Regions from separate parts of the Homo sapiens genome. Here region 1 is linked to region 2. A link means that fine-mapping ties the variant in region 2 to the plasma level of a protein whose gene starts in the linked region. Region 2 holds a variant in brackets. A gene starts in the other region. All regions are shown on their forward strands. Region 1 holds the start of AHSP (alpha hemoglobin stabilizing protein). Region 2 overlaps KCTD17 (potassium channel tetramerization domain containing 17).

Evidence for each region. PIP is the posterior inclusion probability: the model's chance that the variant is causal. The UK Biobank Pharma Proteomics Project read protein levels with antibody pairs (Olink). The fine-mapping took linkage between variants from a reference panel, not from the people measured, so its PIPs are less certain.
Region 1: AHSP starts here. The variant in region 2 is fine-mapped to the plasma level of the AHSP protein (UK Biobank, PIP above 0.99).

The regions. Positions count from the first base shown.
Region 1 is chr16:31,520,021-31,535,237 of GRCh38, forward strand. AHSP (alpha hemoglobin stabilizing protein) reads left to right here and starts at 7,880. Exons shown (of 3, transcript NM_016633.4): 1 at 7,880-7,942; 2 at 8,116-8,194; 3 at 8,438-8,783. The coding sequence starts at 8,120. The coding sequence ends at 8,671.
Region 2 is chr22:37,058,263-37,073,479 of GRCh38, forward strand. KCTD17 (potassium channel tetramerization domain containing 17) reads left to right here. Exons shown (of 9, transcript NM_001282684.2): 5 at 1,051-1,176; 6 at 2,561-2,660; 7 at 2,842-2,913; 8 at 3,277-3,367; 9 at 4,263-5,128. The coding sequence ends at 4,332. It overlaps TMPRSS6 (transmembrane serine protease 6), which reads right to left. Exons shown (of 18, transcript NM_001374504.1): 14 at 12,654-12,770; 15 at 12,222-12,390; 16 at 10,811-11,082; 17 at 8,564-8,700; 18 at 7,174-7,976. The coding sequence ends at 7,818. Among named protein-coding and RNA genes, the nearest start is that of KCTD17, 14 kb to the left of the region's middle. RefSeq lists enhancers at 2,435-3,292, 3,293-4,150, 5,003-5,826. The variant A/G (reference allele first, on the strand shown) is at 8,634.

The DNA of each region.
Region 1 (15,217 bases), not on the chromosome of region 2:
TACACACTGTAACCTGTTTTAAGAGCCCACAGCCTGTTTTCTGGTGAGCTGAGATGTGGCTGCCTTCAGTAACACTTTATCGCCTGCATCTGACCCACTTTCTCTGGGTACCTTAAAAACAGTCACATACTGTTTTAGTAATTCCTTCAGTTGGTGACTTGCCTGGTGTGAGACTATCTGGGAACCCCTCCTACCCAAGCCCACAGGTGATAACAGTCTGTGAACAGTCCAGGGAGACACCAACTGCTCAGGGATGCTGGAACAGTGTATGAACAGACTATGTATGTTTAAACTTGTACCCATCATTGAGCTTTGGCCAATTGTTCAAACCATGTTCAAATAAGATAAATGCCAATTGTAACCAATGCAGCTGTTTCTGTATCCCACTTCTGTACCATTTTCTGTATGTCACTTTCTTGATTCTGTCCATAAATCCTCTCTGACCACACAGCAGCATGGAGTTTTTCTGAGCCATTCTGGTTAAGGGAGCTGCCTGGTTTGCAAGTCATTCTTTGTTCAATTAAATCCTGTTCAACTTAATTTCCCTAAAGTATTTTTTTATTTTTTACTTATTTTTTTTAAACATTACCAAGGTTAACAAGAGCTTGGAATACCTTAGGTGGGAGGAACATGGTAGGTGATGTTTTTGGGAGGATGAGGTGAGGCCAGAATGGGGTTCAAGGGCCAAAGAGGGACCTGTGTGAGAGGCTGATGAGGGTGCTGTTAGTAACCGGGCCTATTATATGGGAACAAGGTTATTACCCCCATCAAACATGAGAGAAGGGGAAAAGTTCTTAAAACACAAGCAGGAGGTATTTCCCTCCTACTTTTTATATTTCCACAAAGAGCCAAAAGCCAAGTATATGGCTTCTGTCCTTCATTCTCACAGTGTTCAGAGTAGCCAGCCATGTCCAATGAGGAGGGTTCAGGTGCATAGAGCAGTCTTCTAAATACTAATCTACATCTTTTTCCACTACAGCATTTTTATCAAGTCAATTTAAAAAGTTTTGGTTGATTAAGGAAACGTTTTTAAGGCCTGGTGCAGTGGCTCATGTATGTAATCCCAGCACTTTGGGAGGCCAAGGTGGGCGGATCTCTTGAGGTCAGGAGTTGGAGACCAGCCTGGCCAACATGGTGAAACCCCGTCTCCACTAAAAATACAAAAAATAGCCAGGCGTGGTGGCAGGTACCTGTAATCCCAGATACTCAGGAGGCTGAGGCCGGAGAATCGCTTGAACCTGGGAGGTGGAGGTTGCCATGAGCCGAGATCGCGCCACTGCGCTCCAGCCTGGGTGACAGAGCGAGACTACGTCTCAAAACAAACAAACAAAAAACCTTTTAAAGTATATAAACATTAGTTTCAAAATTCTGGTTGGCAAAACAACTATGTCAAGTTCATGAAATATAGGGGAAGTTCCAATGAAGTGTGAGAGCTAGAGTTACTCCCAGAGCGAGCTTCGGGGCTGCTGTCCTGTCCTCAGGGTGCTACAGTCTTTCTAAGCTACATAGGTCACACATGGAGCTGACCTTTCAAACACACAGTTGCTGCTGTGTAAGAGAAATAGGGGACCTTTAACTCTGCTCCTCTGGATGGAAAGAAGGTGTCTCATAGGTCCTATTTTCCATACTAGATGTTAAGTACAGTCGCTATAAGAAGGTCAGTTTCAAATGATTTGCAAAGCACATTTACAAACTCTTTAACCTCAGGAGCATGCCCCTGAATACTACAAATATGGGGGTTGGGGAATCACTTTGAAAGCAAAGGGGGTGAGGCCTTTCTTTTCAGTGACCAAACAGGGTCCCTTGTACAATTCACAGATCCAGCTGCTAGCCCAGCCCGCACCTTAACTGGTTCCTGTGGGAACCCCAGCTCAGTTTGTCTCCAAGATGCCCCCAAATCCTCCAGCCTGGATGCTGCCTCCAGGGTCTACCCTTGTGGGGTTTCCCACTGAGACCCCCCTCACCAGAGCCCAGAAAGAGCCAACCCAAGCTCAGCCGGCAGTGGTTGCTCACTCCGGATGATCTGTCTGCTCTGCTGTCAGTTACACCACTGCTGTCTACTCTCAACCAAGTCTACACCAAGAGACGTCAGCGGCTCATGCCCAATTATGCCTTTCGTAACAACCCCCCTGCATCTCACCTGTCTCCAGCTCCCCACATCCCTTGAAGCTTGGTTTCCTTGATCAGGATTAGGGGTTTTCAGTGTGGCAGGGACTCCTGATAGTCGCAGAATGGCATCTCTGAGGCCAAACCATGTCTGAATTGACACTCCATGTTATCTAACTTTTTCACTCTCCTCTGCTCTGCAGTGTGGGGTGGAGTTCCCCAAAGCAGAAGCAGTTGTGAGAATTCAGCTGTCTCCTACTAATCCAGGTATTTCAGAGACCCCTGTAGGCAGAACACCATGGTCCCGAGATGAGCAGGAAGAACCCTTCCAATGGGTATGCGGTCCTGGGAAGTTTTAGAGAATCAAATTCCAGTTCTTTGAAGTCCATACTCACTCATTCTCAAAATCAACTAGGCCCGGAAACGGTGTCCAGGGGAGTCCCTGCCCCTGGGCCCTTCTCACGTTTCCTTCCTTCTCCCAATTGCCAATCTCACCTGCCTGAAATTTACAAGGGGCGTTGTCCCAGACCACCAGAATAGGGACCCTTCAACAATTCCCTCAATTCTATGCCATCCATCTGATTAGAGGATTTATTTCCAATACAATTGGAATTTCTGTTTCATAAATATTTATTAAAATTTGAAACATTCACTTTGGTAAACCGCATTTTACTAAATATGTGTCTATATATGTTATATATATATATAAATTTCCTCTTGAATATATATGTCAGAGCTGTCTATCCATGTATTTATACAGAGAGAGAGTGAGACAGAGAGACCAACAGAAAGACACAGCACATGAGAGAAGTTGCAAGTAAGTAGAATGGGAGTGAACAAAATACAAGCACAAAAGCATGTGAGTTATCTTAGGATAAAGTTAAGTGGGGATAGTGGAATAGAAATACAAGTTCAAGAAGTAAAAGGCATGTTGTAAAACTCCCAGCTGCTAAGGAAAAACCTGTTTGGTTTTTAAAAAAATATATAGTGGTCAGGGCCAAATCACCACCCCATTAACATTGTGTTGGACACATTCAAAAGAGCGATGTGCGGTTTGTTTAAATGTGTTTGGATCCTGTCACAATTAAAAGCCTTTGCTATGATTTAAATGTATGAGGCAAAAATAAATGTCTACAAAACTTGTGTGGGAGTATACACAAAGATTCTTTAGAAGGATTGGATGAAAGAATTTGAAGACAGTTAAAGGAAAGAATCCCTAGCTGACATTACTTTTCCTCCTGAAACATGCAGTGGGGCTGCCCAGGCCTTTGTCTCCATTTGTTCTATTTACCTGTAGGAAAATAAGACTTGGTTCTCATCATAATTTTAGCAGTCATGACGTACATGGCCTCAAGGGAGTTCCAGAGGATGTTTTAGGCTCCAGGAGCCATTTAAGGGATGTTTCTTTCCAAAGAAAATGTTCATGTCATGAATTTTATTCCACTAACATAATCTGAACATACGGGTCTACCTTTAAATAATGGGCCAGATGACCCCTGTTTATCTAGGAGTGCAGTCTTCTGTCAGGGCAGATGTCCTTTCTACTGTGGAGAATTGCATTTTGAGACCCTATGAGTCTGAGCATATCTGTAAGGGGCTGCTGCTGTCTATTATTAGGGCGGCCTCTTTAGCTTTGGCTCTACACCATGTGGCTTGAAGATTTTCCTTGAATTTGACCTGAGCCCCTGACCCCACCCACATTGCTGGGGAGGAGGGGCCCGTTCTGGACTCTGGCACCTGTAACTCCTGACCCCCGGTCTTGCTTGCAGCGGAAAAGGAGAGGCAGAAGAGGGAGGTGCACACTCAGCCACTCTGGGCATCCTTCCTGGGTGGACTGGGCCCCCTGCAGGGCCTGCTCTCACCTACCCAGGAGCACAGCTGATCTCGGCTGGGTCTCCCTCAGCACACTCAGGATGTGTGGGGCAGGTGTCTGCGAGTCCCCGGGGGACTCAGGTTCCTGGCCAGTCTCACTGCCCCCTGCCCCAGCATTGAGACCCTCATGTGGCTGCAGATGTGGCTGATAGTGCCAATCAAGGGAGCCTCTGTCTTCCCAAACTTAAATTTCCCCTCCCATAACCTATAACTTCAGCCCCCTCCATTTTCTGAGCTAAGCTCCAATTAGTGAAAACAAAGTCAAGTGGGAGTCAGGGGACAGGAAAGTGGCCCAGGGGTGGGGCAGAAGAGGGGGAAGGGACAAGTCTCTCTCGAATGGATCCAGAGTGAGCTCCTCCCTCTTGCGAGTAGCCATGCTGCCAAGACGCTGACCTTCAGATGCGCAAGGCTCATGTCTCCTCCCCAGCCCTGGGACCCTCTGGAGGCTGCAGGTCCTGATTGCTGTGCCAGTCACAGCAGGAACAGGCCCCAAAAACGTCACATCTCCAGGAAATAAGACCAAGGTTCCACCTAACCAGTTCAGCTCTCACCTCCCTCCCAAAATGTTCACAGGGGAAACCATGGGCCAAACTATGTAACATGAAATCTACAACCTTTTTGCCCTGACTCCAACCTGGTACTGCCACGAGCAAGTCAGGGTTTTGCGTTGACTGAGTGGGATTTGGGTCATCAATTCCAATCAGATTTCTGGAGAAGGCTCTTCTTTCCCTGATGATTGAGGTCTTCATTGCAGTCCTCTCGGTGGAAGGAGAGGCCTTCCTGGAAGTCCAAACAGTTCTCTTTTCCTCCCTCTGGCTAATTTCTTGTTCAGCTGAAGCAGAGCCTGCCTCGATGAGGGAGTTCCTATTAGGTTTCTTAATTTTTAAGAGACATCACCAGAAGTGAATTCCTCTGTAAATCAGCAGTGCTTTATTTTTCTGTTGCAGAATGAGTTTGTGATCCTGGTTTTCTACAATTCTTTAGCAAATGTGTTTTTGTAATCTCACGTTCAACCCTTCCTTTATTGATGTATCTAGCATGCTGAAAGGGAATCAGTTTCCCCTGCTATTCTCAAGACACTGGTTGAGGGAGGAGACTTCAATTCTTCACTACATCTCACTAATTTTACTCTGCAATTCATTATAGTCCAGGTAGTTAGATTAGTTCCAACTGTGCCAGGAAATTTTGAGGAATGAACAAAATTAGATTTTTTTTTCCTTTTTTTTTTAAAAGATGGGGTCTCACTATGTTGCCCAGGCTGGTCTTGAACCCTTGGGCTCAGACGATCCTGCCGTCTCTGCCTCTTACAGGCATGAGCCACTGTGCGTGGCTTCAATGTTAGATGTGTTCTTGGCAGCATGGTCTTCTAAGCCATCTGAGGCAGCACCATCTCTTTTGAGTTTCCTGGCATGTACCAGAGACCTTCCTGAAACTTTTCCTTAATGAGCTTTGGAAGGGCATTGGGATCTTGATCTTTCCCATCTGGTAATGAATTATTTTTAAAGAAATATTTAAGAAAAATTATTTAGAAGTGAAAGGATGTAGGAGACAGTCGGCCTGGTGTGATGTGAGAAAGACTGGACCTGGTGGTCATTGCTGGCTTTCAAGCTGGAAAGGGACCAGGAGTGAAAGAATGTGGGTTCTTCTATAGACTAGAAGAGGAAAGAAAAAGAACTCTTTTTCAGAGATTCCAAGGGGAACACAGCCTAGAGGACAACTTAATTTTAGCCTAGTGAGTCTCATTTTAGATTTCTGACCTCTAAGTCTGTAAGATAATAAATTTATTTATTTATTTATTTATTTAGAGACAAGGTCTCACTCTGTCACCCAGGCTGGAGTGCAGTGGCGTGATCTTCGCTCACTGCGGCCTCTTCCTCCTGGGTTCAAGCGATTCTCCTGCCTCAGCCTCCCAAGTAGCTGGGATTACAGGTGCATGCCACCATGTCTGGCTAATTTTTGTATTTTTAGTAGAGAGGGGGTTTCGCCATGTTAGCCAGGATGGTCTCGAACTCCTGACCTCAAGTGATCTGCCTGCCTTGACCTCCCAAAGTGCTGGGATCACAGATGGGAGCCACCGTGCCTGGCCGGTAACACATACTTTCCACCCTATATAAATGAAAACATGTTCACATGGAAACCTGTACACAAATGTTTATAGCAACTCTATTCACACTTGCCCCAAAGTACAAACAATCCAGATGTCCTTCCGTGGCTGAATGAACAAACTACAGTGCATCCATACAATGCAATGTGTCCACTGACACTTGTGACAACTTGGATGGAGCTCAAGAACATCATGCTGACCAAAAAAAGTCAGTCTCAAAGGTTACATACTGTATGATTCCATTTATATGACATCCTGAAAAAGGCTTAACTGTAGTGATGAACAGATAAGTGGTTGCCAGAAGTTATGGGTGAGGGTAGGGGTGGCTACAAAAGGGTAACGTGAAGGAGTGGTTTTTGGGTGACAGAAACATTCTGTATCTTAACTGCGTTTGTAGTTACACAAATCTGTTATAAAATTAATAAACTAGGCCAGATGCGGTAGCTCACACCTGTAATCCCAGCACTTTGGGAGGCCAAGGTGGGTCGATCACTTGAGGTCAGGAGTTCGAGACTAGCCTGGCCAACATGGTGAAACCCCATCTCTACTAAAATACAAAAATTAGCTAGGCGTGGTGATGCACGCCTGTAATCCCAGCTACTTGGGAGGCTGAGGCAGGAGAATCGCCTGAACCTGGGAGGTAAAGTTTGCAGTGAGCTGAGATCGCATCACTGCACTCCAGCCTGGGCCACAGAGGGAGACTCCCTCTCAAAAAAAAAAAATTTAATATACTGTACACCAAAAGGAAGTCAGTTTTGCTGTATATTGATTAAAAAATGCTACAACCAAAAAGGCAAATCAACAAAGCTTTATGAGTGTATAGGCACCTATGAATGTTGGGTTTTGAATGGAAAAAAAAAGTGACAGGAAATATACAATGTTTAATGCTGGTTACTTTGGAGGGGGCAAAAATGATTCAGTTTTTCAGTGTACGTTTTTGTATTGTTTTAATTATTTCAATTAGTATATAGTGATTTTGAAATTTGAGAAACATCTACTGAAAATGGAAAATATCTGGAAAAATATTTAAAAAGAGGAAAAAGAGTATTTCTGCTTTATTGGGTACCTGTTGACAGGGTAGTAAACAAGACAAATCCATCTCCATTCTTTTTTTTCTTTTGAGATGGAGTCTCGCCCTGTCACCCAGGCTGGAGTGCTGTGGTGTGATCTTGGCTCACTGCAACCTCTGCCTCCTGGGTTCAAGCGATTTTCGTGCCTCAGCCTCCCAAGTAGCTGAGACTACAGGTGCCCGCCACCACGCCCGGCTATTTATCTCCATTCTTATGGAGCACAGCGTGGTGGAGTTCAGTCCACACGCTTACAGGTGGCTTATCTGCAAAATGTGTCTAAAAAGAAATTTTATAGGATAAATATTTTGTACATGTTTGAAACAGTGCTTGGCACAAATGAATAAATGTAATGCAAGCTGCTATTAATACATCATCTCCGAATTGGGAGAATCATTGCGATCACATCGTTGTGATTACACAAAAGCCTCTGTCATGTAATAGGGCTCAGTAAACGTCAATTTCCATAGCATTTCGAGCCTGGATACTGAAATATGGGGCAAAAAGCAGGAACATGCCCCTGGTTTGGCTCTTGCCTTCTTGCATTTCCTGGGTTTCCTCATTTATCTTTTTTTTTTTTTTTTTTGGCCTTGTTATCTTTCTACCTTCAGGGAAGCCTCTCCCTTCTTCTCCTCCCTAGAATGACCTATCACCCTCCTTCAGGACCTAGATGCAGGGCGTTTCTATCTTAGGCTGACACTTGACTCCTTGCCTACATCTATAGCTTGGCACAGAGAGATTCACGCACCCTCAAGAGTGTGGGTGAGACATATACAGCCTGTTAGACCTGAAGGTGAGCCCAACCTGGGAAAATCGTGACCTCAGAGCAGGGCAGGATGTGAAAGGTTTTGGAAAGGAGATAGCCCTGCAGGGCAGGAGGGATTTTTAAGGGGAGGAAGTGGGTTGGGGGAAATACCCAGTGAGGAGGGAAACAGATATGTAAATTCTACCCTTTTCTCTACCCAGGCAGATGGCTCTTCTTAAGGCCAATAAGGATCTCATTTCCGCAGGATTGAAGGAGTTCAGCGTTCTGCTGAATCAGCAGGTGAGTCCAAGCTTTCCATTTCAAAGGACTGGCCTGGAGACTGGGGGGTGCCGGGGAAGTGGAGGAAGAGGATAATTGGAGCTGGTGAAGTAATGGTGGAGTTGATGGAAACAACGAGAGACACGGGATACAATGCAGAGGAAAGAGAATGTGAGAGTTGGTGCTGTGGCACTATTCTAGTATTCCCGAATCCCATTGCTGACCACATTCTCCCTTGCCAACTGCCTCTCCGCAACCCCCCAGGTCTTCAATGATCCTCTCGTCTCTGAAGAAGACATGGTGACTGTGGTGGAGGACTGGATGAACTTCTACATCAACTATTACAGGCAGCAGGTGACAGGGGAGCCCCAAGAGCGAGACAAGGCTCTGCAGGAGCTTCGGCAAGAGCTGAACACTCTGGCCAACCCTTTCCTGGCCAAGTACAGGGACTTCCTGAAGTCTCATGAGCTCCCGAGTCACCCACCGCCCTCCTCCTAGCTCAGGGACCCAGCCCCTCCTCTCTGAGAAACTCTGACCTTCATGTCCTTAGGCTGTGCTCCTGCCACTCTACCCTGACACCTCAATAAAGACCAGTGCTGGTTTTGTTGGACTTCCTGGCTTCTCTTTCATGGTCTGTCCTGACATGTGGAGGCACTCGGTCCCTTTCCTTCCGCCCTCCTTCTTAGATATGCTCTTGGAAGCTTAATTCCTTACAGCAGAGGTTAGCAGCCTTGAGTGACCACCGGGCAGCGATTCTAAACTAAAACAGGCTGAACGAGGGCCAGGAAGGCGGGACTAGAGAGAGTGCAGAGCTGCAGGGGAGGGGGTGGCAGAAACAAGAAAGGGGGATAGAAGTCCTCCAGACATTGTCCTGTGACCTGCTTGTCGAGGAGGAAACTGTTGGAAGTCTCCCAGTCTTGTTCATCCTGCGCCAGGTCCACCGCCTCGACTTTTCAATCCCCTGTCCTTAGCCCCAGCTCAAACTACATTCTAGGATCTTCGGACTCTGACTACCGCAAAATACCTCCCCGGAGCCCCAGGCATCGCAGGAATTTAGAGTTGGAAGGGATCCTGGGAACCCTTTAGCGCGCCCCTTATATTTCAGGAGGGGAAGCCACTTCCCTTTGGCTCCAACATCCCTGGGCGCAGATGCCAGGATTGGGAAGCAGAGGAATCCGCCTTCCCCCCACCCCAAGCTTCTCAGATCAATTCCCGGTCTAGCTCCCTTTCTCCCAGACCTCCAGACTCGAAGCCTCTATTTTAGGGCTCTGGGCGGAACCAGGGACGGGCCAGACTCAAGAGCTTTTTAAAAACGAAATGAAGGTGTTAGACCCGCGGCGCAGTCTCCAGGAAAAGCCTCCACGCGCAGAGGGGAGGGCCCTCCGGGGGAGGGTGCGCGGGGCGGGGGCGCGCGGGGGGAGGGGGTTCCCGGGGTGCTGAGCGGGGGCGGGGGTGCGCGGGGCGGGGGCGCGGCTAGGAGGCGCCGCACAGCAATCAGACGCGGCTCAGGGTGCGCGCGGGGAGCTGGAGGGCGCAGTTCTGGACCTTTTCGGTGTTCTCTCTAACGCGGGAAAAGTTTGGGGCCCAGAGGGATTGCTCCTCGTTCCAACCTCCAGCAAGCTTTCCTCTGGGACTTGTGAACCGACTGTTGTTTTGTAGGTCTCTGCAGCCTGGATCAGGGTGGAAAGGGAACCCGCTCAGTGTCCCCAGCGGTGCTTCCAACCCTGGGGTGTGGTCGGCCCTAGATCCAGCTTGGGAGAGTGGCGCCTCCCAGGGAAGCAGGCGGCGAGCTCCTCTGGGTTGGGGTCGGTGGTCCAGGCAGAGTCTGGGGCCTTCTCCACGGCACCTCTCAGGAAATCTCAGTCTGTGAGTGAGGACCAGAGCCCGCTCAGGCGGGACAGTAGTCGGCAGCCTCACCTTTGCAAGAGAGACCTGGCCTGGTGTGTGTGGGTGGAGGAAAGTGAGTGGGGGACGCTAGGAGAGCGCACAGCACAACGCTCCGGTGCCTTATGCAGAATGGCGAAATGTTTGCATGTAACCCACGCACATCTCTTCGTGGACTTCACATCATGGCTAGATTACTTACAATACCGACTACAACGTCAATGCTGTGCAAATAGTTGTTACACTGTATTATTTAGGGAGTAACGACAAGAAAAAAAGCCTGTACATGTTCAGTACAGAGGCAACCATCCATTTTTCTCCCCAAATATTTTCCATCCTTGGTTGGTTGAATCCACAGATGCGGAACCCACAGATACGGAGGGACCACTGTATTTGTCTTTCAGCTTAGCTGAAAAGAATGTTAGAAGCCGCTTTGGCTCAATTCATGAAGAGGAATTTTCCATACCTTTATAACTATCCAGCTATGGGAGCTGCTGAGCTAAGCACTTCTCAGGTGCTCAAAGGAAAATGACCAATTACAGGTGTAAGGTAGAAAAGATTCTCACTGGGAAGTTCAACATTGAAACTCCATTCCGACCATTCCATAAGCTTGTGCAATTGAGAAGCTGCAAAAAATATTTTTAAGACAGAAAAATCTGTTACCTGCACTTTCTGCTCTCATATTACTATCAACGAAGTGACTGGTTATAAATCTACAAGAAGTAAAATTGGGGATATTTTGATTTTTCAGAGACGGTGATATGAACCTGATGGTTCATAATAATAAAAATAAAATAACTAAAGCAGAGAGTGCCCCAAATCCATTACTGTTCCTGAAGGAAAATAAATTAGAATTAGTAAGAATAACCTTCTTTTGCTTAGCAGTATCTGAATTAATACTAGAAATAAGATTGTAAATAAATGGTAAAACATTATAGCCATAACCCTGCCCTTATCCTCACCCTCATATTGAACCTGACCTAGAGCTGACCCTGAACTTGAGCCTCACCTCTAGCTTCATCTTGCCCCTGATCATAATGGACACCTTGCCCTCACAATGACCCTGACTCTCACACTGACATTGCCTCTCATTCTCATTCTTATACTGATCCTGATGCTGAATTGGACCCTAAACTTTACCTGATCCTAATTTTCACCCTGTCTCTGACCCTCAACCTGAATCCTACCCTGACCCTTACCCTGAAATTGACCTTCACTGACCCTTCCCTTAGCATGATGTTGACTCTGACCCTCACTATGACCCTGACCCTTGATCCTCAACTTGACCTAGACAGTGATCATAATTATGACTTTTTTTTTTTTTAAAGAGGCAGGGTCTTGCTCTGTCACCCAGGCTGTAGTGCAGTGGTGCCAGCATGGCTCACAGCAACTTTGACCTCCAGAGCTCAAGCGATCCTCCTACCTCAGCTTCCTGAGTAGCTGGGACCACAGGTGCATGCCACTATGCCTGGCTATTTTTTTTTGTATTTTTTGTAGAGATGGGGTCTCACTATGTTGTCCATGCTGGTCTTGAACCCCTGGCCTCAAGCAAGCCTCCCACCTTAGCCTCCCAAAGCACTGGGACTACAGGTGTGAGCCACTGCACCTGGCCTTTAACCATGACTCTTGACCCTGAAGCATACACTCTCACCTTGACTCTGACCTTGCTCTCGTTCTGACACCACCCCCTCCTTCACACCTGAGCCTTACCCTGGTGCTCACTCTCACCTTGCATCTGACTGTGACACTCACCAGACCCTGATCCTGACTGTCACTTACACACTCTATCTCGTTCTCACCCTGACCCTGATTCTGTACTTGACCCGGACCCTCACTTTTGCCTTCAGTTTTAGCATCACCCTTAATCCCAACCGAACATTGAAGCTAACCCTACAGTGGCACTCAACTTGACCCTCCCCTGGCCTGGAAATCTTAATGTCACCATAACCCTCATCATGACCATAAATCTGACCCTTACCTGACCCTGACTCTGCTGCTTACTTTCCACTGACCCTGACTTGACCCTTATGGTCTCCTTGATCCTGACCTCACCCTGACTCTATAAGGACCCTTATCCATACCTTCACCATGTCCTTGAACCTGCTGTGAATCTGAAACTTATGCTGAGCCTGAACTACACACTCAGCCTGACCCTGGCACTAAGTCTTTCTCACTCTGTGATGAACTCTGACCCTGAAACTGACTCTGACCCTCGCCCTGACCCAGGCTTTGAATGTTTGCCTCACACTCCTTATCCTCACTCTGACACTGACCCCCACTCTGATCCTCACGATGACTCTCAGCTGGACTTTGACCCTGGAACATGACCCTTACCCTCATCAAGACTCAGCAATTTGCTCACACCTGTAGTCCTGGCACTTTGGGAGGCTGAGTTGAGAGGATCACTTGAGGTCAGGCATTTGAGACTAGCCTGGGCAACACAGCAAGACACCCCACCCCCATCTGTACAACAAAATATTCACATTGCATTACAAATGTCTGCTACATCATTGTAGTAAATTCTTTCTTTTTACTCCTATTAGTAGCTGCAACACGTTCTTATGATAAAACTCTGTGCCCAATTCTGACCACTGGAACAAGCTGGACACATCTGGCTTCTTTTTTTTTTTTTTTTTTTTTTTTTTGAGACGGAGTCTTGCTCTGTCATCTAGGCTGGAGTGCAGTGGTGCGACCTCGGCTCACTGCAGCCTCCGCCTCCCAGGTTCAAGCGATTCTCCTGCCTCAGCATCCCAAGTAGCTGGGATTACAGGCACCCACCGCCATGCCTGTCTAATTTTGGTATTTTTAGTAGAGACAAGAGTTTCACCATGTTGGCCAGGCTGGTCTCAAACTCCTGACTTCAGGTGATCCGCCTGCCTCAGCCTCCCAAAGTGTTGGGATTACAGGCATAAGCCACCAAGCCCAGCCACTTCTGGCTTCTTACCAGGGCTGTGACTTGGTGAGACAAAAGAGGAATCAGTGGGAAATTTAAGGAAGCCCTCTCTCGCAGGCTCGTGAAAGTGCAGGGACAGCTCCTGAGAGTGAGGCCTCCTTAAATGTTGTGTCCTGCATGCCTCACTTGCCTTACTCTCCTCTAGGGCCTGCTTCTTGTAGCTCCTAAAGGGTTTTGCCTTCTGGATATTTTTCAGTTCTCCTGCAAATGCAGATGGGCGGCCCATGCCCACTAGTGTTCCAGGCACATCCCAACATGTCCAAGTCCACTTAGAATCCACTGGAATCCCCGATACATTTGTTTGATGCATTTATATATTAATAATGCAGTAGCTCATGCCTGTAATTACAGTACACTGGGAGGCCAAGTTGGGAGGATCACTTGAGTCCAAGAGTCCTAAGAGACCAGCCTGGGCAACATAGAGAAACCCTGTCTCTACAAAAAATACAAAAATTAGCCAGGTGTGGTGGTGCGTGCCTGTGGTCCCAGTGACATGGGAGGCTGAGGTGGGAGGATCACTTGAACCCAGGATTTTTTTTTTTTTTAGATGGAGTCTTGCTCTGTTGCCCAGGCTGGGGTGCAGTCGTGCAATCTCAGCTCACTGCAGCCTCTGCCTCCCAGGCTCAAGTGATTCTCCTGCCTCAGCCTCCCAAGTAGCTGGGACTGCAGGTGCGTACCACCATGCTGGGCTAAAGAGTCCAGGAGTTCTAAGACACCAGCCTGGGCAACACAGGGAAACCCTGTCTCTACAAAAAATACAAAAATTGGCTGGGCGCAGTGGCTCACACCTGTAATCTCAGCACTTTGGGAGGCTGAGGCGGGTGGATCACCAGTTCAGGAGATCGAGACCATCCTGGCCAACATAGTAAAACCCCGTCTCTAGTAAAAATACAAAAAAATTAGCTGGGTGTGGTGGCACGCACCTGTAGTCCCAGCTACTCTGCAGGCTGAGGCAGGAGAATTGCTTGAACCCGGGAGGCGGAGGTTGCGGTGAGCCGTGATCCTGCCACTGCATTCCAGCCTGGGAAACGGAGCGAGACTCCAGCTCAAAAAAAATATATATATATGTGTATATATATATTTTCAAGGTAAGTAATCTAGCTTCTGTAAGCCTCAGTTTCCTATTTTTGTATGTGTGAGGGAATAAACTACTTGATCTTTCTATAGCAAATGTCATGTTTTTGTGAAAGGTTTTCTGAAGGTAGATGAACCAAATTAAAAATTCTGTAGATGTCAGAGGCCCATTTGTCCATGAGCATCCCCTCTCCCAACCTTGAAAATTACTGTATTGATTGGATTTTCCATATAAAACTTCTATTGTAGCCTCCAGAGTTTGTGCACTCATGAGAATTAATTACATTTTTCATGAATTTTTTTTTTTACACTTTCTTCCCTCTTACAACTTAAGAGTTTTTACTGATACCATAAACAAAACAAAACAAACAGGAATGTCACATAATGGAGTTAGTGGCCAAAATTAAAATATAAAAGACTTTAGTGTATAAATTAGGCTGGGCACGGTGGCTCATGCCTGTAATCCCAGCACTTTGGGAGGCTGAGGCAGGTGGATCATCTGAGGTCAGGAGTTCAAGACCAGCCTGGCTAACATGGTGAAACCCTGTCTCTATTAAAAAAAAAACAAAAACAAAAATTAGCCAGGCTTGGTTGCAGGCACCTGTAATCCCAGCCACTTGGGAGGCTGAGGCAGGAGAATCGCTTGAACCCAGGAGGTGGAGGTTGCAGTGAGCTGAGATTGTGTCTTTGCACTCCAGGCTGGGCAACAAGAGCAAAACTCCGTCTCAAAAAAACCCCCAAAAACAAACAAAAAAAGACTTTAGTGTATAAATTGAGTTGACTATAATGACTGTATACTTTTTGTTGACACATTATTCATTACAAATGTTTTGGGAGAGATGTGCTTGCATTTTCAATCTTAAGAGCGCATAGTTTTGTAGTTATAAATTCTATTACTGCTATATTGTTTCTAATACCTTTTACAGAAGCGAAATGTCTTCCTGCCACTAAATAGCATTTACCTGCAAGTGGAGAAGGAATCAAAGCTCATAAAACTGCAATACAAAATTTGTCTTCAGCAATAGGTTTAATTTTATTTTTGTAGATTTATGAACCTAGAAATTTATTGCTGGATATTTAATATATCAAAACAGCAGAACCAGGAGCTTGTATTAAGAAATGTATCAATAGCT
Region 2 (15,217 bases):
TGGAGGGATGGAAGAATGGGCCTAGTGCAGAGCCAGAGGCCTGGCTTCACCTCTAGGCCTTGCCACAGACATGCCTGCCACCTTGGGCAAGTTACATCTCCTGTGCGGGACCCAGTTCCCTCATCGGTGAAGTGGGCTAACAGTACCTCCTCTGTAGGACTCTTGTGAGATTAGAAGGGCCATCAGTAAAGCTTACAGCCCTCCGTAGGACTCCCTATGTTGGCATTAGTGTCATGCAAATCATTAGAAATCCATATTGAAGTCTGCAACACTCAGAGAGGACTTGGGATCCCCGATGCCATTCCCTGCTCCACCCCTTCCTAGCTGTGAGGCCTTCAGCAGGCCTGAGATTCTCTTCAGGGTCCCTGAGAGCTGAATGAGACTCATCACCTGGAAGAACTTTCTTATTTCTTAGCCAGAAGGGCTCTGTGGGCGTGGTTATTCTAGGGACCCTGGAACAAGGGCAGGGCCACTCTGAGAGCCTCTGGGTGTCTTTGGCAATTGCACAGGCTCTCAGAGGCTGAGCAAGCAGGCCAGGGACCATTGGTCATTTGCCCTTTGGTCTCAGGAGTGGACCACCTGTCGTCCCACCTCTGCTTCCAGGAGTGAAGGGAATATTCTGTGGGGCTCCACCTTGCCAATGCCACCCTGCAACCTTGTCCTGGGGCTGTGTCAGCCACATCTGGAATGGGGGACAGCCGCCCTTTAGAGGCCTCCGCCTGCATTTAGAAAAGGGCCCCCTGGCTCTGGGGCTAGGCTGGAGGTGGTGGTGGGGACAGCGGTAATGCTGCCACCCTCCACCAGGGATCGGGCCAGCCAAGCCAGGCGGAGGGGCTGGTCCTGGGGCACAGACCACAGGCACAGGTTGCAAGGGGGAAGACTCCACCTTCCTGCCCAGAGGTGCCCTCTACAAACCCAGGAGTGGGCCCGACAAGCCGCAAGATTAGGACCTGAGCTGGTATCTTGATTTGAGTGCCGAGGTCTGTCGTATCCTGCCCCACGGCCCCCAACACCAACCTGCATTTTTCTCCCCATGCTCCGCCCCTCTAGCTGGTGAACATCGGCTCCTCCTACAACTACGGCAGCGAGGACCAGGCAGAGTTCCTGTGTGTGGTGTCCAAGGAGCTCCACAGCACCCCAAACGGGCTGAGCTCAGAGTCCAGCCGCAAAACCAAGGTGAGCCCACCCGCCTCAGCCTGTGTCCGGAGAAGTCTCCTGTCTCCCTCCACCCTCCCCGCCTGTCCCGCCCCTGCGCCTGCACCATCCCTCCACCTCTCTCCCGCCACCGCCCATGCACAACCCCATGCTCACAGCCACCGCCATCCATCCCATGCCACCTGCCGTTACCCAGGCCCAGGCTGGGAGCAGTGAAATGAGAGCATCCCCAGGGTGCAGCCGGCGTGGACTCAGAGGCTACATGAAGGGGGCCGCTTAGTGGCCACTGGGCACTGTGGCATGGACTAGGGGTCAGGGCACAGTGTGGCACTCTCTGTGTGACTTAGGACAGGGCTTGTCCTCTCCCAGCACCTTTGCTGCACTCTCTGAAGTGAGAGGGGAGGATCACATACTCTTTGTAGTGCCTTGGAGCCTGGAACTTCTGGGATCCCAAATGGCCGTTTATTCCCCAGGGACAGGTGCATGTCCCCAGCTGGCCTGAGCCAGGATGAGGAAGCCACCGCTGTAAATCCTGCCCCTTTCCCAGGCCCCCTCCTTGGCTGCTCTGCAGGATAGGGGCAGCCTGGTGGCTGCCAGTCCTGTGTGTCCGCCTGGCCTGTTGAGGCAGCCTCCTGAGAGCACCCTGGCAGCATCCACTGTACCACTGTGGGGAGAGGGCTGAGCGGGGGTCCTGCCATCCTGGACCCAGTGCTGTGGGAAGTCCCAAGGGCCTTCGCAGAGCCACAGAGCAGGCGTGAACCAGGCTGGGAAGAAGGCAGGCTGCTCCTCCTGGGGCCCAACCCCACACAGTGGAGGCTTACCTCTGGCTTCCTGTCTATCTGTCTGCCTCCCTGTCCTGCTGTGACGCACCCTGCCTGCCCACCCACCCCCACCACTGCCAGGGCTGACGCTGCCCTGCAAGGGTGCAGAGCGAGACTGCTCCTTCTGCCTCTTTGGGCCAAAGCCCCTGGACCTGGGGTGTCAGAGACTGGCTGGCATCCCAGATCTGGGTGGTGTCTGCCCTGGGGCTTCCTTGGCCACATTTCTACTGAGGAGCAGTCTTTCCAAACAAGGCCTTCCCAGGCACCCCTCAGGGATACCCCAGTCCCACACCCTCCCTGTTCTGCTTCATCCCCTCCCTCCAGCCTCGCTCTATGTAACAGCAGCCAGGCTGACCCCGGAGCATGCCCACAGCATCCCATCCTCAGCTGCTTTCCCCAGGCCCTCCCCAAGCTGCCCAGGGGACCGGAGAAGATGCCCCCAGCTTCTGTGGCTGGAGCCCTCCCCTCTCCTGAGGTCCCTTTCACCTTGCCTGAGACCGGGTCTTTGGGGATAGCCAGCAGGCCCTGGCCCCTCTGTTAGTGTCTCCACTCTTTCTTCCCTGGGTCCGCCGGCTGGTTCACAGAGCACGGAGGAGCAGCTGGAGGAGCAGCAGCAGCAGGAGGAGGAGGTGGAGGAGGTGGAGGTGGAACAGGTGCAGGTGGAGGCAGATGCACAGGAGAAAGGTGCAGCCAACCCCCAGGAGGATGATTGCTAAGCAAAGCCGGAGCCTCCCGCCCACTCCTTGCTGGAGCCAGCTGCAGAACCGGGGGCCCCGGGGCTGCTGGGGGGGCACCAGGGTTAGCTCAGCCACTTGCCTGGCGCCTCACCCGCATAACCATCCCTTCTCTCACTTTCTCTTTGCAGCCCAGTCATCTCAGGATCCCGCTAACCTTTTCTCCCTCCCACCACTGCCTCCTCCTCCGCTTCCCGCTGGAGGTCCTGCCTCATCTTCATCCACCTCTTCTTCCTCCTGGATCTCATCTGCACCCTGCCTCTTCCCTCTCTGCCCCTGTCCGGGTTTTCTCTCTGCCTGCTCACGCCTCCATCCCGGGTCTGCCCTGGTCCCAGCCTCCCGTGCCCTCCACCCAGGCCCCCTGGCCCTGCATCCCAGAGCGTCCTGCCTGCCGCCTCCTGCGCCCCTTCTGGTACCTCCTGCCTCCCAGCCTGGGGAGGAGGGGCGCAGCTGCACCTCCTCTGTGCCCACTAACCCTGCCGGGCACCTCTGAGACTGGGCCCTGGCTGCAGGCCCTGCCCCCCCTCCTCTCCTCCCGGCCTCCTCCTCACGTTTCCTCCTTGCAGGTTCCCGTCCGCACCCTCTCAGACCTGAGGCTGAGCTTGCAGTGAGGGCTTCTCCTCGGCCCCTCGCCCGCCCCCAGAGCTGCCATCCCTGGTTTGTAGCTTGGCGGTGCTGGAGGGAGGGGTGGAGCGAGGAGGGTGCTCATCTCTTGATCCTTGGACTTGAGCCGAGCTTTCGGCTGATTATCTCCACCCACCAAAGTTTCTCATCCGACCTTGGCCTTGGGGGTGAGGCTCTGAGAGGAGAAGAAAGTTAGGGAGTGGGAACTTTCCTACCAGCCCATCAGCACCAGAGCCAGGCTGGTGGGGAGGGAGGGACCGCTGAAGCCAGAGGCCCTGGCCAAGTCCCTGCACATCCAGGAGCTCCTGTGTCACTGCCTTGTGGCATCCCCTATTTCTGTGGGGATGGGGAGGACAGGCCACTTTTGGATACCCTTGGCCCATGAAGTGTCAGCCAGAGTGGCTTAAGGATTGCAGAGTGGCAGAAAAAGCCCTGGCCATGTGCCCACAAGCCCCCTATCCCACTCTTTTCTGCCTGCTCTGTGACCTTGGGCAAGTCACTGTCCCTCTCTGGGCCACAATTGCCTCTAAAATTGGGACAGACAGCTGCTCCCTGTGGCTTCTTTCGCCTGGGGCATCAGTGCCTCTCCCAGCCCTGAGCAACCCCCATCCCACCCCCTTCAGAGTCTTGGCAGAATCTGGCCTCTGTAGGTGGCCGCCACCGAGCCCAAGACGGGGCATGGGGCTCCTGGATGGGTTAGTTGGGGAGCCCTTGCTGCTCCCCCCAACTCAGTTCTGAATCCACCTTCTTTGGGCCTCAGCCCCACCCCCTCCTCCAGAAGGAAGCCTGTGACTCAACTGCCTCTCTCTCTCTCCCTCTCCCCCACCCGTCAATCTCCTCTCCGCCCCCTTGCCCTGCATCACCCCCTCCTTACCGGCCCCACCTCCGCCCCTCCCATCCTCCTGCCCTTCCCCTCTTTTTTTTCTAGCTGTTACAAGCCAGAGGCACCCGGATGTGAGGCCCCAGATCACCTCCAGGGACTTGGGGTTCCCATCTGAAATCCTTTATTTTTGTACCATGGGGTGGGCCCCGGGCCTGAGAAGGAAGAAGCACCCTCTCCCCGGCCTCCTCTGTCTGCACCCGTGGGGCTGTGACTTACTCCTGCCTCCAGGGGCGGGGCGGGGCCCCCCTGGGACCTCTTAAGGCCCAAGGTGGGCCCCAGGACCTCTGGGCAGAGTGGACTGCTCATGGCAGATGTGTGGCAATGTCTGGCTGTGTCTCTCCGGCACCTGCGTCCCCTCTCCCGGGCTCCCCTGCTGCATGGTGGATGTGCTCCTTCCTGGCCCGGTCACATTGCCTCCTTGAGCCTTAGTCCAGGGGGTCACTCCTCCCACCCCACCTACCTCACAGGGTTGTTGTGAGGGTGCACAGAGGAGCAAAGTCCCTGAAGGCCCTCAGGCAGTATATAGGGGCCGCCCACCTTCAGCTGCCCTGGGATGGGAAGGACCCAGCCCGACCCCTGGGCATAACACTGTGTTTGCAAATGGAGATTCAGGTATTGGGGATGCAGGTTGTGGGGAGCTGGCCTGGCAGAGTAGGGGTAGTTGGCTTGGCCTTCTCTTTGGTGATCCCACCCCCAGCCATTTGCATTGCTGGCCCAGCGCCTGGCCTGGGGGGCGGGGAGAGGCAGCAGAAGGGGCTGGGCAGGGGCGGTGGAGGACTCAGGAACTGCCCGGGGAGAGTGGGTATGGCGGCTGAGCCAGGGGCCCTCCTGTGTTTGACTTCCCGGGATGGGTCCTTGCTTCTCAGCTGTGTCCGACCCCACCATGTAATAAAACCCAAAGGAACAGCCCAGCCTGGCTGTTGCCCTCTTTCTCTGGGCCACTTTTGGGGACGGGGCTAAACTAAAGGTGTGGTAGTCTGGTCCAAAGGAACGCGGCTTTGTCCCAAAAGCCCAGGGACGCTGCCCTGTTGTCATTTTCCTGTGTGTGTTGCAGGGAGGGCTTGGGGAACTGGCTATATCCTTTGCCCTGGGGCCGGATACCAGAGCACCTGCCCTACCTGGCCGGGAGCCAGAAAACAGAACTCTAGGGAGAGCCCTGGGCTGCCTCTGCCACATCCTAAACCTCTCAGCGCGCCCCCTCCACTTCTACTCTGACACCTGGGCCACCGCCATCCCTCCCTATTGCTGCCACCCCTCTGCCCAAAATCCTAGGAAATATAAACACCCCGCCCTCTCCCTTCTCTGACCCTGCTGGACCCAGCCCAGACCCCAGACCCTCCACCCACCCTGGCCAGTTCCTTCAACTCCTCAGTCCTCCCCGCTGCTCGAGGAAATCCTGCCGGGCAGTGAGCCCCTAAGGCGCAGGCCTTCCACAGGCTGGGGCGGGGGCACCCTCTTGCCAGCTCAAGCCTGGAGGGCCTCGCCACTTCCCCTGAGGACACTCCACTCCAAAGCTGGACTCATTTTTAGGGTCCAACTATCCTTGCAAAAGAGTCACCAGGAGGCTTGTTAGGAGAACAGATGACACGTCCCCCGCCCTCCAGGATTCCGATGAAGACTGAGGTAGGGCCCAGGGTGATTCCAGATCACCCAAGGTATTCTGCATGTGTTCTGCCCACCTGCTCTGGAGACGCTCCCTGCCCACCCAGCTGCTCCGGCTCGTCCTGGCAGGACCCAGGTGGGTGCTCCCCGTCCCTGGTTCCCCTTCTGCCTCATTCACCCACAGACCTGGCAGCAGCGCCCATGTTGGAAAAACCCCTCTTCAGTCTGGGGCCCCTCTGAAGCTCCCTCTCTCCCTTCCGCTCCCAGTTAGGCGTCTAGAAAGAGTTGTCCACACTTGACCGTCCACCCTCACCTCCAGCGAGCCCCCTGCCTCCATCACAACTGCCCCCAGGGGTCTAAAATCATCCTCCAGTCCATCCCATGGCGCTGCTCAGTCCCGGCCCATCCTCTCCATCCTGGAATCCTGCGGTGGCCTCCTAACCAGCCTCCCTGCCTGCCGCTCCCTGCACACTGGTGCCAAGGCTGGTTCCAAAATGTGAATCCTCTCATGTCACTCCTATGCTATAGAGCCCACCGTGGCTCCCCAGAGCTTTCAAGATCAAATCCTTGGCTCAACCCCAGGCTCTGCTATCCCGCCTCAGTTCGCCCCTCTGAATTCTTGAGTCATCCTCTCGAGCTCTGTTCTAACACTCACTCGGCTTGCTGGGTCCTAGCGTGCCTCATTCTTCCGGGACTGTGCCTTTGCACGTGCTCTTCCCTGCCTGGAATATCCTTCCCGGATATTCCCACCTGGACCACCTCTGAACCCCAGCTCAAGTCTCACAGCCTCCAGGCAGCTTGCCTTGACTTGCCCAGTCCACGCTCCCCTCCGGCCCCTTCCCACTGGATCATCCCCACTGCTCCTGGGGTCAGGAGCCAGGTCCTTCACCCCTGTGGCCCCAGCATAGTGCTGGCACATGGTTGGAGCCCAAGGCTTTATTCAGTGGCTCAAAGAATGCAAAGGAAGGGAGTGTCGCACTGGACGGGGCCTTGGCAGACAGGGAGCTGGGAGACAGGAGTCTATGCCACCTCCACTCCTAACCCCCAGTGCCACTATGAGGATGTCTTAACCGCCTCTCTGAGCCTCAGTTTCCTCCTAAGGTTCCAAAAGGAGACGATTGCTCCTCACATCCCTCTGACCTGAGGGTCCCCAAATGATTGCCTTCCTGGCATTTCTTCTGGGACCTGGGCAGCTGCCCTGCAGGCCCCAGCCCTCAGTGGCCACGCCCACTGCCACTGAGCCCACCTTGGCCTTCTGGACACTTGTCAAACAGGCTGAGCAGGAAGCAGGGGCTGCTCCAGTCAAGGGCATGAGGCTGGTGCCTGGGTCCCATTCAAACTCCAGCAGCGGGGCTTGGATCAGGCAGCTTTATTCCAAAGGGCAGCTGAGCTCACCTCCCAGTGAGGGTCTGGGCTGTGAGGGCCCAGGTGGCAGGCAGGGGTGGGGCAAGGACCCTGGAGTCAGGACTTCCCCACCTTTTGGCTTACAGTGGCAGCAGGCCCACCTGGCAGTCTCCAGGGCTCTGAGGGTCCCCTCCGATGGGAGCACCTTCCATTCCCAGATCCCAAGTTAGACCAGGGGCTTCCGAAGCTGGAATCTGCTCTCTGGAGGCAAGGCTGCCCAAACAGCCTCTGTACAGAGTGGGGCGCACCTCAGACACTCCTCGGGATGTAGAACCAGCATTCTTGCTGCTGAGCCACTGCCTTGCATTAGGCAGCAGTGGAGGAAGGGGACGGAGGAGAGAGAATTGGGAGGCAGAAGGGCTGGGTGTGGGCCTGGGTCCTCAGGGGACGTCTTGACCCCCAGCTGCTGGCACTTCTCCATCCTCCTGCCATCACTGGAGCAGACATCAGGGACGAGACAAGATGCCACCTCCTGCCACCACAGGGCCTGCTCTCTCCCCCACCCCCCGCCAGAATACTTGTCCCCCTGCTTGGCAGTTGCCCTGGGCTCTCTGAGTCCAGGAGGTGGGCCCTGCTTTGCAGGGGGGCAGTTCCTCAGGTCACCACTTGCTGGATCCAGCTGATCACACCTGTGATGCGGGTGTAGACGCCGAAGTAGTTAGGCCGGCCACAGCCCAGGCCCCAGCTGACCAGCCCCGCCAGGAACCAGCGGCCACTGAGTGCCTTGCACACCAGCGGACCACCTGAGTCACCCTGAAAGGGGGAAAGGAGAAAGGACTGAAGCAGGGTAAGGGCACCCCCTTTTCCAGGTGAAGAGCCATAGGGATTAAGTCCTGACTGTTGGGAATTGACTGGGTGCCAGAGTCACGTTCAGTCTTAAAGCTCTGCTTTCCCCTCGCCTGCTAAATGGAGAGAGCCCAAGCCAGCCCTCCCCGGCCTCCAGCCAGCCTGGGACCTCCTGGAACTGTGGCTGTGTCCCCACGCCCCCACTCTGCCTCCGCCTCCCTTCTGTGGCTGACACCCCTTTCTTCTTCCATGCATCCACCTCACTGTGGGACCCTGGGCCTAGTGCCTTGTGGTGGGCAAGGAGCAGAACTGGGTTTGAGCCTAACACCTGCCCATCACAGCATCTCTTCTGATCTGTGGCTCTGCAACCTTGGGCAAGCTCCTCAACCTTTCTAAGCCCCAGTCTCCTCTTCTGTAAAGTAGGGGTGGCCATCACCACCTTGCTGGGAGGATGGGAGGCTTCAGCAGGCTGATGTGAGCAAAGGGCCAGACCCTGGTGATGTGGGCAGCATCCTTTCTCCCTCCTCTCTCCCTCCCATGCCCGGGGGACTCACCTGACAGGCATCCTTCTTGCCCTTGCGGTAGCCGGCACACAGCATGCGTGGCGTCACCTGGTAGCGATAG[A/G]CCTCGCTGCACAGGTCCTGTGGGATCAACTGCACATCCACTTTCTGCAGAGCGTTGCTGATGGGGCCTGTCCGTGGTCAAGGGCAGAAGTGAGATCTCAGGAGCCTGGAGCCCCTGTTCTCTATTCTCCCTAACATTATTCCCTTTGCATCTCAGGAGCCTACTTCTCTCCTGCTCTGCCCACCCTTACCCCTGCTAGGGTCGCACCTGCCCCTCTGCCTCCCTGTCACTTTATTCTAGCTCTTTCTCTGTGGGGTTCATGGTGACAGCCCCCGACCAAAGCCCATGTGGAGGGCCGGGCACGGTGGCTCATGCCTGTAATCCCAGCACTTTGGGAGGCTGAGGCGGACGGAACACCTGAGGTCAAGAGTTTGAGACCAGCTTGACCAACATGGAGAAACCCTGTCTGTACTAAAAATACAAAATTAGCTGGGTGTGGTGGCACATGCCTGTAATCCCAGTTACTCAGGAGGCTGAGGCAGGAGAACCGCTTGAACCCGGGAGGAGGGGGATCCGAGCCGAGATCGCGCCATTGCACTCCAGCCTGGGCAACAAGAGCGAAACTCTGTCTCAAAAAAACAAAAAAAAGAAAAAAGAAAAAAGCCCGTGTGGATGAGTGTCTTCCTCCAGCTTCTTGTCCCCCACCTCTGTCTGCTGAGGCACCTCTGGGCTCTGGCTGGCTCCTCGCTGCTCTGTTACAGCACCTGCAGATGTCTCCGAAGCCCACATCTGATCCCTTCATGGTTTCCTTAGAACTCTGCAGTGCCCCAACTCTGCAGTCTGCCCTAGCGCTTCTCCACGAGGGCTGCATATCACAGTCCCCCGGGGAGCCTTGATACGCAGTTTTTCTTGAAACTCCCCGTATGGTTCTAAGGTGCAGGTAGGAGGGAGAACTCCTGGCCTAAGATCCTTATGCTGGCCGGCAAGGCCCTGTCTGCCATTCTGGTTGCTCCTCGCCCAAGGCCCTGTCTGCCATTCTGGTTGCTCCTCGCCCAGGCACGCCTGCCCCCCACCTCAGCCCCTCTGGCAGGCTGCGGATGTTCTCACATCTTCCTGTCTTGGCACCTGTGTCTTCACCTGAATGTCTTTCCCCTTTGTCTGAATGTTGCCAACTCATCTTCCAGGCCTCAGCTTAAACAACCCTCCCCTGGAAGCCTCCCCTGACCCTAGCTGGGCAGGAGCCTCCTCTGTGTCTCCACTGTTCCTGCATCTCCCCATCCATGTCAGCTCTTACCACTGTCTGTCTCCCCCGAGAATGTTCTCTCTTCATCCTTATGTACCCTTCCCCTAACCCCACGCCTGGTACGTACTTGGTGCTCAGAAAGTGTCATTGAGTGACTGAATGAGTGAAGGAATAGTGAATGAACCAGCCTTTGCTTTGCCATGACCACTGCCATCCCCTTGGGTAAGTCACTGTTCCTCTGAGCCTCAGTTTCCCCATCCTTAAAATATCTCTGCGGCCCCGCCTGCTTCCAGATTGTAAGTCACTGTACACATTTTTGAAGCCACCAACACTAACGCTGCAGGGCATGTCTGTAGGTTTGCCAGCTGGGTCTGTGTCCCCAAAACTGTGCGGTGGCCGCCAGGGACTCTGGTCAGTGAACGTAGAAAGGGGAGAGACCCTGTTTCTGAGAGCAGTAGCAGGAAGAGCAGGGGCTCTGGAGGCAGCCAGCCCTGGGTTCTAATCTTTGCTCCAGTCCTCTCTGGCTGTGTGACTTACAGCAACATGTCTCTGAGCCTTGGTTTCTCCATCCATAAAATAGGGCCACAGCATCCGCCCGTAGGGCTGTTGGGTGGATTATATGAAGTCAAGTTCCCCTAAAATCCAGCCTGGATGTGGAAAGTGCTAGTAATTAAGAGCCTTCCACCCTTGCAGCCCAAGGAACAGCAGGTGGAGCTTGCACGTGGGCAGTGGCGTCCCAGACCTGCCCCTTTGCCCCACACATAACGCCCTTCCAGAAGGAAGGGAAGAGCTAGGAGGGGAGGGGCAGGGGCCTACAGGCCGCATTAAATGGTGGTTTTCTACCGTAAAATTCAGCCCAATTTGAATCCCAGCACTAGAGGGCCTATGGGGTGGAGCCCCGGGACCCCCAGCCCCGCCCTTCTCCAGGCCAGGTGTTACGGCGCAGATCCGCACGGTCTCCCTCCGCCTCCCGCCGCAAGTCCCCGCTGCTCACCGCCCTCGCGCAAGGCGCCCCAGCCCGTAATCCAGCAGTGCAGGCCGGGCTCGAAGAAGTGGGAGCGCGCGGGCAGGCAGACGGGGCGCACGGCGGCCGAGCGCACCACCGGGTGGTCGAGCTGCAGCAGCGCCACGTCGTAGTCATGGCTGTCCTCTTCGTGGTACGGGTGCAGGAGCAGGCGGCTCACCTTGAAGGACACCTCTCCAGGCCAGCGCGAGTTCTGCCACACCTTGCCCAGGAACACGGTCCACAGCACCGTGGAGGCCATGCTGGGGTGGGGTGGGGTGGGGTGGGGTGGGGTGAGGTGAGGTGGGAGGAAGCTGCCTCTCCCCATCCAGGGACCCTCAAGATAGCCAGATCCCCGCCCGGGACAGTGCCCTCCACACCCAGCCCTCCCTTCCCTCCCTGAAGGTCGCCTAGCTGGTGGTACAGCGTTCAGCCTTCACCCACTCGGCCTGCCTGGGTTCCACGCCCCAGCTTCATCCCTCCCTAGACATGGGTGTGCCTCTCTAAGCCTCTGCCACCTCATCTGCAAATGGGAATGGCATTTTCTACTCGAATGTTCTTGAGAGAATCCAATAAGACCGTGTATCTAAAAAATGTAGCACAGTGCCAGGCCCCCGACACAGATTTCTTTTTTCCTGTGTGCTTTACAGACCCAGGCTGCTCTGAATTCCCTGAGGCTGGTGGGTCCTAGTGGGGAGCGGGTGGGAGTTGAGCGTGGAGGAATTGGACTGCGGCAGTCAGCTGCCTGGGTGGCAGATGGGCAGCCTTCGGGTCTCTACCCTCTACCTGAGGGCAGTGGGGAGCCTGAGATGGGGTTAAAGAGAGCTAGGTGGTCAGAGCGCCCTGCGTCCCAGAGAGGATACAAAAGGGGATCCCTGTGCAGGGCCTGGGGGCGGGATCTGGAGCCCAGATCTGTCTGGGGGTGGATTGGGGGAGGTTTCAGCCCACCAAGCAGATGGGAAAGATGGCCATGAGGCCTGATGAGATGTCCCCTGGGGGCTCCCCAGCCCCACCTGCTACCTCGTGTCACACCTCGGGGAGTGTCATAGCTTATGACCAGGTTGGGCAGTTCTGTCCTTTACTGAATCCCCAGCATCTAGCACAGCCCTGGCACATAGTAGGAGCACAAGTGTTGCTGAATGAGTGAATGAGATGAATGAATGAATTACTGGCCCAACTTAAAGCAAGATACCAAAAGTAGATGGCAGAGAGGTGGAACAATGTGTCCGGGGACCCAGAAGGTCCTGGTGGAGCCAGGACTAGAACTCACATCACAGTAGCCTGTCTGGGGGGTCCACCACCCTTCCCTCTATCTGCAAAGAGCTCAGACACAGTGCACCTCCCACCGGGCCTTCCCTGCCCTTGTCTCTTACTGCCTAGGCCCCCACACCCTCCCGCTCACCTGTCCTCCTGGAAGCAGTGGGCAGCTGTTATCACCCAGCGGTCAGCGATGAGGGCCCCCCCACAGATGTGTCGACCCCGAACCTGGAGGCTGGCCTGCCATGGCCACTCACCCTCGGAGGACACAGCTCCACCAACAATGCGGCTGGAGGGGCCCTGGAGGCCACAGTCTGGGGATGGGGGCAGGTGGTGGGGTGGACAGAGGAGGAGGGGAAGGGGAGAAGCAGACAGAGAGGAAGGGCAAAGGAAAGAGATGGAGAGACAGAGAACAGGAGAATGATGGAGGGGGAGAGACCATCAGGACCCAGGCAAGGGGGCAGAGGATGAGATAGAGAGAGACCAGGGGACAACAGTGAGATTTCCCTCCAGCTTCCTGCTGTGGGCACCCCCTCCCTCCCAAGCTCCAGGGCCCCGGCAGCCAGGCAGGGCTCACCACAGTGCTCCTCATCCGAGCCGTCCCTGCAGTCGGGCCGCCCATCACACTGCGGGTTGGGCTTCTTCACGCAGCTCCGGTCCTCACACTGGAAGGTGAATGTCCCACATGGCACCCCTGGGACAGAGGGGATGGGGGCAGGGCACAGAAGGTGGGTCTCTGAGCCCCAAGGAAACCTTCCAAAGTGGGGTGCAGGAACGATGGAGCCAGAAGAGCCAGGAGGTGACTAGAGAGTCTTTTCCTGAGTCTCCTTTAGGGTCTCCTAAAAGCAGGCCATGTCCCCCCGCCCCCCACAGCCCCTCCACTCAGACTGGCCTATTGAGCACAAAGTGGTGTCTCCATTCTCAGACTGGAGATCCTGACCACAAGATCATGCCTCCCCCTCCAGTGTGGAACTTGAAGGCAGAACTGTGCCTCCACTTTTAGACCAGGGTCCGCACCTAGCCTGGCAATCTCCCAGGCTCTGGCCCTGCCCGGTTGTCCACATTTTCCTCCCTGCTCTTCACTGTAAAGAACTTTCCACTCCACCACTTGGTCTTTGCCTCTCTCCTTTCCTCCTGCCTATTTAAGTTTTAGCTCTCACCAAGGGCCAAACACCTACCTCCTCCAGGAAGCTTTTCATGTCTGACCTCCTCCCTGCCCTCCAATCTTCCTACAAGGCAGGAGAGTCACCCATCATATCCTCCTACTAACAGATGAGCCTTGGAAGGCAGGGCCTGCATCTCTGCTGTTTTATTCTCACTTCCTTACTGCACCTTGCCTATCGCTGGGTAGCCTGCAAGTGTTGGTCAGTTGGTCAGTTGGATGGGTAGATGGATGGATGGATAAATAGACCCAGACAGAAGACTGAGCAGACAAGCCAATGGGTGGAGTGGTGGTCCATTAGGGAGACTGACAGACAGCTAGAAGGTTGGATAAACGTGTGGATATAAGGACCAGTGGACAGACAGGGGGCTAGGGAGATCAGTGGATGGGTGGATGGATGGGTGGATGGATGGGTAGATGGATGGATGGATGATGGATGGGTGGATGATGGATGGATGATGGATGGATGATGGATGGATGGATGGATGGATGATGGATGGGTGCATGGATGGATGGATGGCTGACGGATGAATGGATGGATGGTGGATGGATGGATGATGGATGGTTGGATGGATGATGGATGGATGGATGATGGACAGATGATGGATGGACGGATGATGGATGGATGATGGATGGATGGATGATGGGTGAATGGATGGATGATGGATGAACGGATGATGGATGGATGGATGATGGATGAATGGATGGATGGATGATGGATGGATGGATGGATGATGGATGGATGGATGATGGATGGATGGATGATGGATGGTTGCATGGATGGATGGATGATGGATGGATGGATGATGGATGGATGGATGATGGATGAATGGATGGATGATGGATGGATGGATGGATGATGGATGGGTGCATGGATGGATGGATGATGGATCGATGGATGATGGATGGATGGATGATGGATTGATGGATTGATGGATGATGGATGGATGGATGATGGATGGATGGATGGATGGATGGATGGATGATGGATGATGGATGGATAGACGATGGACAGATGGATGATGGATGAATGGATGGATGATGGATGAATGGATGGATGATGGATGGATGGATGGATGATGGATGGATGGATGATGGATGGATGGATGGATGATGGACGATGGATGGATGGATGATGGACGGATGGATGATGGATGGATGGATGATGGATGGATGGATGATGGATGGATGGGTGATGGACGGATGGATGATGGATGGATGATGGATGGATGGATGATGGACGGATGGATGGATGGATAGATGGATGATGGATGGATGGATGATGGACGGATGGATGATGGATGGATGGATGGATGATGGATGGATGGATAGACGGATGATGGATGGATGGATGGATGATGGATGGATGATGCATGGATGATGGATGGATGAATGGATGGATGGATAGATGGATGATGTATGGATGGATGATGGACAGATGGATGATCGATGGGTGGATGACGGATGGGTGGAAGGATGATGGATGGATAGATGGATGATGGATGGATGATGGATGGATGGATGGATGATGGACGGATGGACGATGGGTGGATGGATGGATGATGGATGGATGGATGGATGGATAGACGGATGATGGATGGATGGATGATGGACGGATGGATGATGGATGGGTGGATGGGTGGGTGGGTAGATGGGTGGGTGGATGGATGGATGGATGGATGGATGGATGGAACAGTGGCCATATAGACCAGTAGTCAGCCAAACCAATAAATGGGTAGATTGACAGTTTGATGATAGGGAGATTGATGGTTGCACAGGTCAGTAGATGCATAGATAAATGGGTAGCTGTATGAATCAATGGACAGACGGTGATTGGAGACCAGAAGATGGATGGATGGATGGATGGATGGATGGATGGATGGATGGATGGATGAATGGACAGACATACAGATGTAAATACAGAGGGGTTGGTGGGTGTTGAGAGGAGAAGCTAGAAACTTTTGCTGAAGCATGTAGCA